2 linked regions of the Homo sapiens genome follow. The protein of the gene in region 1 interacts with the protein of each later gene in a pairwise test. Each region holds a gene or a part of one and is shown in the gene's direction. Other genes may lie near its edges.

The links. The genes of interacting proteins can lie anywhere in the genome.
Region 2: the proteins of CD53 (region 1) and CREB3L1 interact in binary tests that used the Homo sapiens proteins (3 or more experiments, as listed by UniProt).

Annotation. Positions count from the first base shown.
Region 1 is NC_000001.11:110,876,148-110,879,647, forward strand, and holds part of CD53 (leukocyte surface antigen CD53), read left to right. Parts: exon of another isoform or gene 1-1,487; coding exon of another isoform or gene 1,488-1,538; intron 1,539-3,500. UniProt on the Homo sapiens protein: Structural component of specialized membrane microdomains known as tetraspanin-enriched microdomains (TERMs), which act as platforms for receptor clustering and signaling.
Region 2 is NC_000011.10:46,284,162-46,287,661, forward strand, and holds part of CREB3L1 (cyclic AMP-responsive element-binding protein 3-like protein 1), read left to right. Parts: intron 1-3,500.

The DNA of each region.
Region 1 (3,500 bases):
AATGAGAGCCAATAAATAGGAGCTGTCGCAACTGTCCAATCTGCTTACTTTTCAGGTAAAATGACTTGTCCAAAAATCATAAAATTACTTAATAGTTATTCAGAATGTCTTCTGATTCTCTATGGCATGCTCTTTCTTCTACATTATACTATAGTCCCTTTTCTAAGAGATTTTTTATTAAGTAAGCATCATTAGACTGTATTCTTCATTTACATAAATTCCTAGTGCATTTTAACATAAGCAAACATAAAAATACCACTTAATTGTAAATGTAATTGATCTTAAGCTACTATGCTAGCAAACTAAATACTTAACATATATTTTATTTTCCAAACCTTTTTGTTTGGCCTTTTCTATTTCAGGAGAACTAGATTGAGGAATAGGGGTAAGAAATGATTTTAATGCCTCATATCTTTTAAAACTTGTTAAAGTTTACTTGTTAAAGTAAATTTGAACTTATGGCTTACCTTATATCAGGAGCAAATAAAGGCATTCAAGAATTATTCCATAGTTTAGTCTTCTTAAAATAACTATTGTAGAATCTCAGTATTTATAACATAGAAGACAAATTGTAATGATTTTGAGATGAGAATCCCTTAGATCATTTATTTATTTCCCATCCCTTTAAAAAAATGACAAAATTCAGACTGATAAAAAGGTTGAAAAAATATTATGAAAAATTTCTAAATCCTTTTCACCCAGATTTCCAAAATATTAACATTTTACTTCATTTGTTTATTCTCTGGCTCTCTCATTTGACAGTAATTAGTAATTTGATTGATGCCCTTTCCCCTAAGAATGTTAGTGTATATTTCTACAAACAAATGCATTCTCTTATATAACTACTTTACAATGATCAAAACCAGGAAATTAACACTTATGCAATATAATTAACAATCTATGTACTTTATTCAGATTCCACCAATTACCTCTTTAATATTCTTTATAGCAAAAGGAAATTTCTAGTCACGCATTGCCTTCAACTGTCACTTTTGTCTCCTTTAGTCTGGAACACTTCCTGAATTTTTCTTGCCATTGATATTCTTGAAGAGTAAGGTCAGTTCTTTTTTAGAATGTTTCTCCATTTGGGTTTATCTGATGTTTCCTCATGATTAGATTCAGGTTATTTAAATTTTTGATAGGAATACCAACAAAGTGGCTTTTCTTATCCCACAAAGAGTCTTGCTTAATCTGAGCATAGCCAGCCTGCAGACACCATGGACAGGCCTCTAGCCGAGGGACCCCGTATGTAAAGTTCTGCATATTTCTACCTAGGAGGACGGAGAACCTCTGGTCTCTTGACTCTGTAACAGTGCTAACTGTTTTAGGTAACTGTTCCTGATTTACGAAGTAAGCTTATTAGAAGAGTCCCTGTCCCACCTCAGCTGTTATTAGTATCTTGCTAAGCTCCCACATGGGAGGAAGTGAGCTTCCAAGATCATCTGGATTTGTCTTTCTTCACTTTTTCTCTCCTCTTTTCTTCTTCCTTATTTCTCTCTTCTTCTATAAATCGCCAAATCCTCTCCCCTAACAGCGACCTAGAAGAAACAAAATTTTTATCAGATTACAATTTTAGGAAGGAATAAGATAACAGATATTCCTTGATTAGTTGATGGAGAGATGAATGGACACGAATACATGAGAGTTGATGCTTTGGCTTCGTTTTATTTTACCCCTACTTCTTCCTCTACAACTGCTTATTACTCTTCAAAAGGACGTACAGCGATAACTTTGATTGCACCTCAGCCACTGCTCACAGGAGTTCAAACGAGCTGATGAAAAATGGAAGGTCTTCTCCTGGATGCTCAACACATTGCACCAAATGAGTTGGGAAGTAATAGGCACAAAACCAGAGCCTGGGACGGTGGAAAGAGCATGGGCTTTGGAGGCTGAAAGAACTTGGCCTTCACCCTGCCTTTGATGATTCTTAGCTGGGTGACCTTGTGCCAGTCCTCGGCTTCTCTATTTGCAGAATGGGGCTAATGACACCTAAGTTGTCAGGCCGATTTGAGGATTATAAATAAGACATTTATGAGGAACTTAGTTATTTTGTGGGATTCAGTGAACTATCTATTATGTATCTCAGTTTGTTTGAGCAAGGCCTACATTTGGGAGCCCTCACTGGGGCAGATTTTCGCTCCTATTTAGAAAAACTTTTTCTTAATCACAGCCTCAATTGTCTTTGCTAAGGAACAAAGACTGCCACAGGCTCTGTGTAGGAAGGGATAGGGAGCCGTAATTACCTTGCGAATGCTCTTGTATGTAAATTGACAATCTGTATATAGAGAAATGTATATGGAGAAGTGTCTGGAAAGACGTTTGCCAAAATGCTAATGATGGTTATCTCTGGGAGGTGGGATTTCAGAAGATTTTATGCTTTCTTCTTTATACTTTTCTTTATTTTTTAAATGTAGAATTTTTTTTTAAAGAAAGCATGCTTACATTTGCTTTCTATTGCTGGATTTTTCAACTTTTTCTAATAGGTTTGAATGGAGTAAGAAATGTGTTCTAATAATATATATTCTCAATCTTAGCTTACAAAGGTGTTTCTCTACCAAACACTTCCATTCACTGAAAGAAAACAATTTATGCATCTTAAAGAAACTGTGCTTACATTTGCCTTTTATTGCTGGGATTTTCCAACATGTCTTAACAGAGTTCAGTGGAGAAAGAAATGTGTTCTAATAACGTATTCTCAATCTTAGCATACAAAGGTGTTTTTCTATTAAACGCTTTTCTTCACTGAAAGGAAGTCTTACAGAAACTGTACTTGCATTTATTTATTTATCTTTTATTACTGAAATTTAACATTTTCAATTTGTTCTAATAGGTACAAATGGAAAAAAAACATGTGCTTTTCTTTATTGTTTGATTTCTTTTTGTTTTTTTATTTTTTTTACAAATGGCACACGAAACCTCTTTTTAAAACGTATGAAACAAGCAAGGGATTATTCTTGCCCCGTGTATGTTTTATTCCTAAAAATCTGTTAGAAGCTAAGGGTTACCCTTAGGAATGGACTGGTAGGTAAGGTCTGAACTTGATCTTTCAGTGAGTTTTCACTGAATAAGGCAGATACACAGGGACTGAGCCATCCTGGAAATAGTATCTCATTTAGCCCTCAGAACAACCTCTGAGGTAAGTATTAATAACCCTATTTCAAAGATATAGTGAAAGACAGGTTAAGCAAGTTGCCCAAGGTCACACTTCTGATAAGTAGCACTAACAGAATTCAAAACTAGACCTGTCTGATTCCAAAGCTAGTGTTTATCAAACTGTGTTCCACAGAATACTATGTTATTTGACCTGTTAATAAGTGATCTGCAACATAAAACTAGGTTTGTAGTTATATAAACATATTTTTGTCTTAGAGACTCACAGTGCACATTAGCATATAACAGGTTTTTCTCTTACACTGTTTTTTTTTCTTTATCTTGGCTTTTGTTTGAGGAGCACTTACTAATATCTCATAAGCGTAATGGTCTATGTAGCACCAAAGCTG
Region 2 (3,500 bases), on another chromosome or scaffold:
CCCTCCAGTCAATCGCGGACGAATGAGAGAGACAGAGAGGGAAATAGGCAGTATCAACACCATGGTGGGCGCCATGATGGAGCAGAGCATGGCAGGAGGCTGAGCCAGGCTACAGGTCATGAAAGCTTTCTCAGAAGGTGATCTCTGCACATGCTGCCCCAATTTCCCTCTTCCTTAGTGGCAAAGGAGTTATTAGAAGGCTTTTCTGGCCAGGCATGGTAGCTCATGCCCATAATACCAACACTTTGGGAGGCTGAGGCAGGTGGATCACCTGAGTTCAGGAGTTTGAGACCAGCCTGACCAACATGGTGAAACCCCATCTCTACTAAAAATACCAAAAAAATTAGCCAGGCATGGTGGCATGTGCCTGTAATCCCAGCTACTTGGGAGGCTGAGCCAGGAGAATCGCTTGAACCCAGGAGGTGGAGATTGCAGTGAGCCAAGATCGCACCATTGCACTCCAGTCTGGGCAACAAGGGCAAAACTCCATCTCCAAAAAAAAAAAAAAAGGCATTTCCACAGGGACTGGGGCCATGTTCCTTTTACTGAACACGTATAGGCATTATTATCCATTGTGCACTCTGCTCAAGGGCAGGAGTCCTATGGAGAGTCAAAGAGGGGAGCAAGAAGAAGCTACAAGCAAGTTCTCTCATTGTTCTAGTTTGAGATTTCCCCTCTAGAGCAAGGAAAATTCAGGATCTTTCATATCACAGGGTCCCTGTCTTCATCCTCACCCACTCCCATCCTTAGGGCACCTTGGATGCCTAGAGCTTTATGGGCAAAACCAGATCCCCTGAATAAGCTCCCACATCCCATTTCACACCCTATCAGATTCACCCCCAGGATGCTGTTCCCCAGCCCTTCTGGGGACTTGGATCTTTGCTCTCTGCAGCTCCCAGGACTCCTCAGGAGACTCTGTTTCTGTCTGCCCTGGCCTGGCCTGGCTACTGCACCAGGAGAGGGGAGCATAAAGGACATCCCTGTTTTGTGTCTTCTCCCTGTATCATGTGCCTCGTGCGAGTCCTGGTACCGAGGCCCTCCTGGAGCATCTCTCTCTGGAACCTGGCTTGCCCTTGAACCTCCCTCAAGAAACCAGCTCCAGATGCTGGAGAACAGGCTGTTTCTCTGGAAGTCTCAGCACTCCTGGGGGCAGGATGGAGGAGGAATATTTGGGTGGAGTTAAGTCAAGACTGTGAGCTGGAACTCTGTGTAACCCTCTTGAGCAGCCCTGGGGAAGCCAGACTGAATGGCAGGACCCTGGACCAGGATTGGGGAATGTGTGGGGGTGGGATTGTCTGGTTCAGGAGAAGCTGGGAGAGGCAGGAAATGCCCCAGGACTCTGACCCTCAGAGGAAATATGTCAAAGGTATTGATTTCTTTGGAATGTCAAAGATCTTGATCCCCACCACCTAGACACACCATATTGTCTACAAGGCCAGTTTGATAGCTGGAGCAACCATGGGCTTCCCTGCCGCCGGGTTCAGTGTGCCTCCTCCCCTAATTCCCCTGGGACAGAGCCTTCACTGCCGCTTCCTTGGCCGTTGGCTCGTGGCTCGTGGCCCAGAAGCCACTTCACCCATCACAGAGAGTTTGACACATCTGGGCTGGGATGTGCGGTCCGACATAACAGCTGGACAGCAGCAGCCACTGGCTCCTCCTCCCCTTCCAAAAGAATAACAAAAATGAAAGTAGCGATGGAGTGAGGCAGGCTCTTCAGGCCTTCATGGAGAGCCAGGAGGCGGGTTTCAGGCAGTGATTGACAGGGGCTCGCTTTGGAGGCAGACAGGTCTGAGCCTTTGCCCATGGGTTCCCCTCCACCTGGAATACCCTCACCCTTCTTTACCTCATTTCCCTCACTTGCTGTGTGACCCTGGGCAAATCACTTTCCCTTTCTGGGCCTTGGCCTCCTCATTTCTGAACTAAACTGAGGGCTCCTTGAGAGCAGGGTGTGTCAGTCAATTATTTGCGGCTATTCCCTAGGTACAGCTATAATGACTGAGTGCTCAGGAAATGTTTATTTATTGGATGGATGGAAGGAAGGCAGGATGGAGTAGGGTGGGGACGATAGAGGAATGAATAGGTGGGTGGATAGATAGTAAAAGAAAGGACACTTCTACACTTCCAGCTTTGATGGCCCTCTTTTTTAAAGTAGATTGCTTCATTCGTTCACTCATTTGATTACTCAAATCGTGAATGTTAGCATAAATGCCATCTCTCCCTTTCACTTTATCATCATGGCCTTTTCTATTATGATATCTTGTGCACTGGTAGAATATATAGACTGTATATCTATCAGTTATAAAGTATAATAAAATTAATACATGGAAACTTACCCAGCTTAAGAATCAGACTCAGGGCCGGGCATGGTGGCTCATGCCTGTAATCCCAGCACTTTGGGAGGCTGAGGCGGGTCAGTAGTTTGAGACCAGCCTGGCCAACATGGTGAAACCCCGTCTCTACTAAAAATACAAAAATTAGCCAGGCGTGGTGGCGGGAGCCTGTAATCCCAGCTACTCAGGAGGCTGAGGCAGGAGAACTGCTTGAACCCAGGAGGCGGAGGTTGCAGTGAGCCGAGATTGAACCACTGCACTCCAGCCTGGGCAACAGAACAAGACTCTGTCTCAAAAAACAAACAGACAAACAAAAAGAAAAAAGAAAAAGAAAGAAAGAAGAAAGAAAAAGAAAAGAAAACACACTCGGTTCTGAATATCTTGGTCTCTCAAAGCTGCATGAGTTTGGGACAGAGGTGAGCTGTAGACCCTGAATCCACCCCACTCTGGGGAGATTTTAAACAGGAAAGTCCCAAGACTTCCCAGGTGCGTACTCCCAGGCTCAACGTGTGCAGACAGTGGGTCCACAGGTCAGATGGCAGATGATGAGGCAAGTGCTGGGGAAGTGATCCTTGCCTGAGGCGGGACGTCTTCAGCACTGCTTAGACCTGGGGCCTCCCACTTGTCACCTGTGTGAGCTTGGGCAGGTGCTTTAACCTCTCCAAGCTTATTTTCCTCATCCAAAAGTAGGGTTCATGGTAAAACATAGGGTTCTTAAGAGAATTCCATTAGAAATTCTTGCAGAGGGCCTGGTACACCATAAACCCTCTATAAACAATAGTTGCCACTGCTGTTTTTATTGTTTTGGTTTTTAAATTTTTTTTTGAGACAGGGTCTCACTCTGTTGCCCAGGCTGGAGTGTAGTGGCACAAACACAGTTCACTGCAGCCTCAACCTCCCGGACTCAAGTGATCCTCTCACCTCAAACCCCTGAGTAGCTAGGACTACAGGGACATACCACCATGTCTGGCTAATTTTTTGTATTTTTTGTAAAGATGTTTTTTTTGCCATGTTGCCCAGGCTGGTCTTGAACTCCTGAGCTCAAGCGATCCTCCCTCCTTGGCTCCCAAAGTGCTAAGATTACAGGCATAAGTCACCACACCTGGACAATTTTTAATTTTTGTGGGTACATAGTAGGTTAGATATTTATGGGGCACATGAGATATTTTG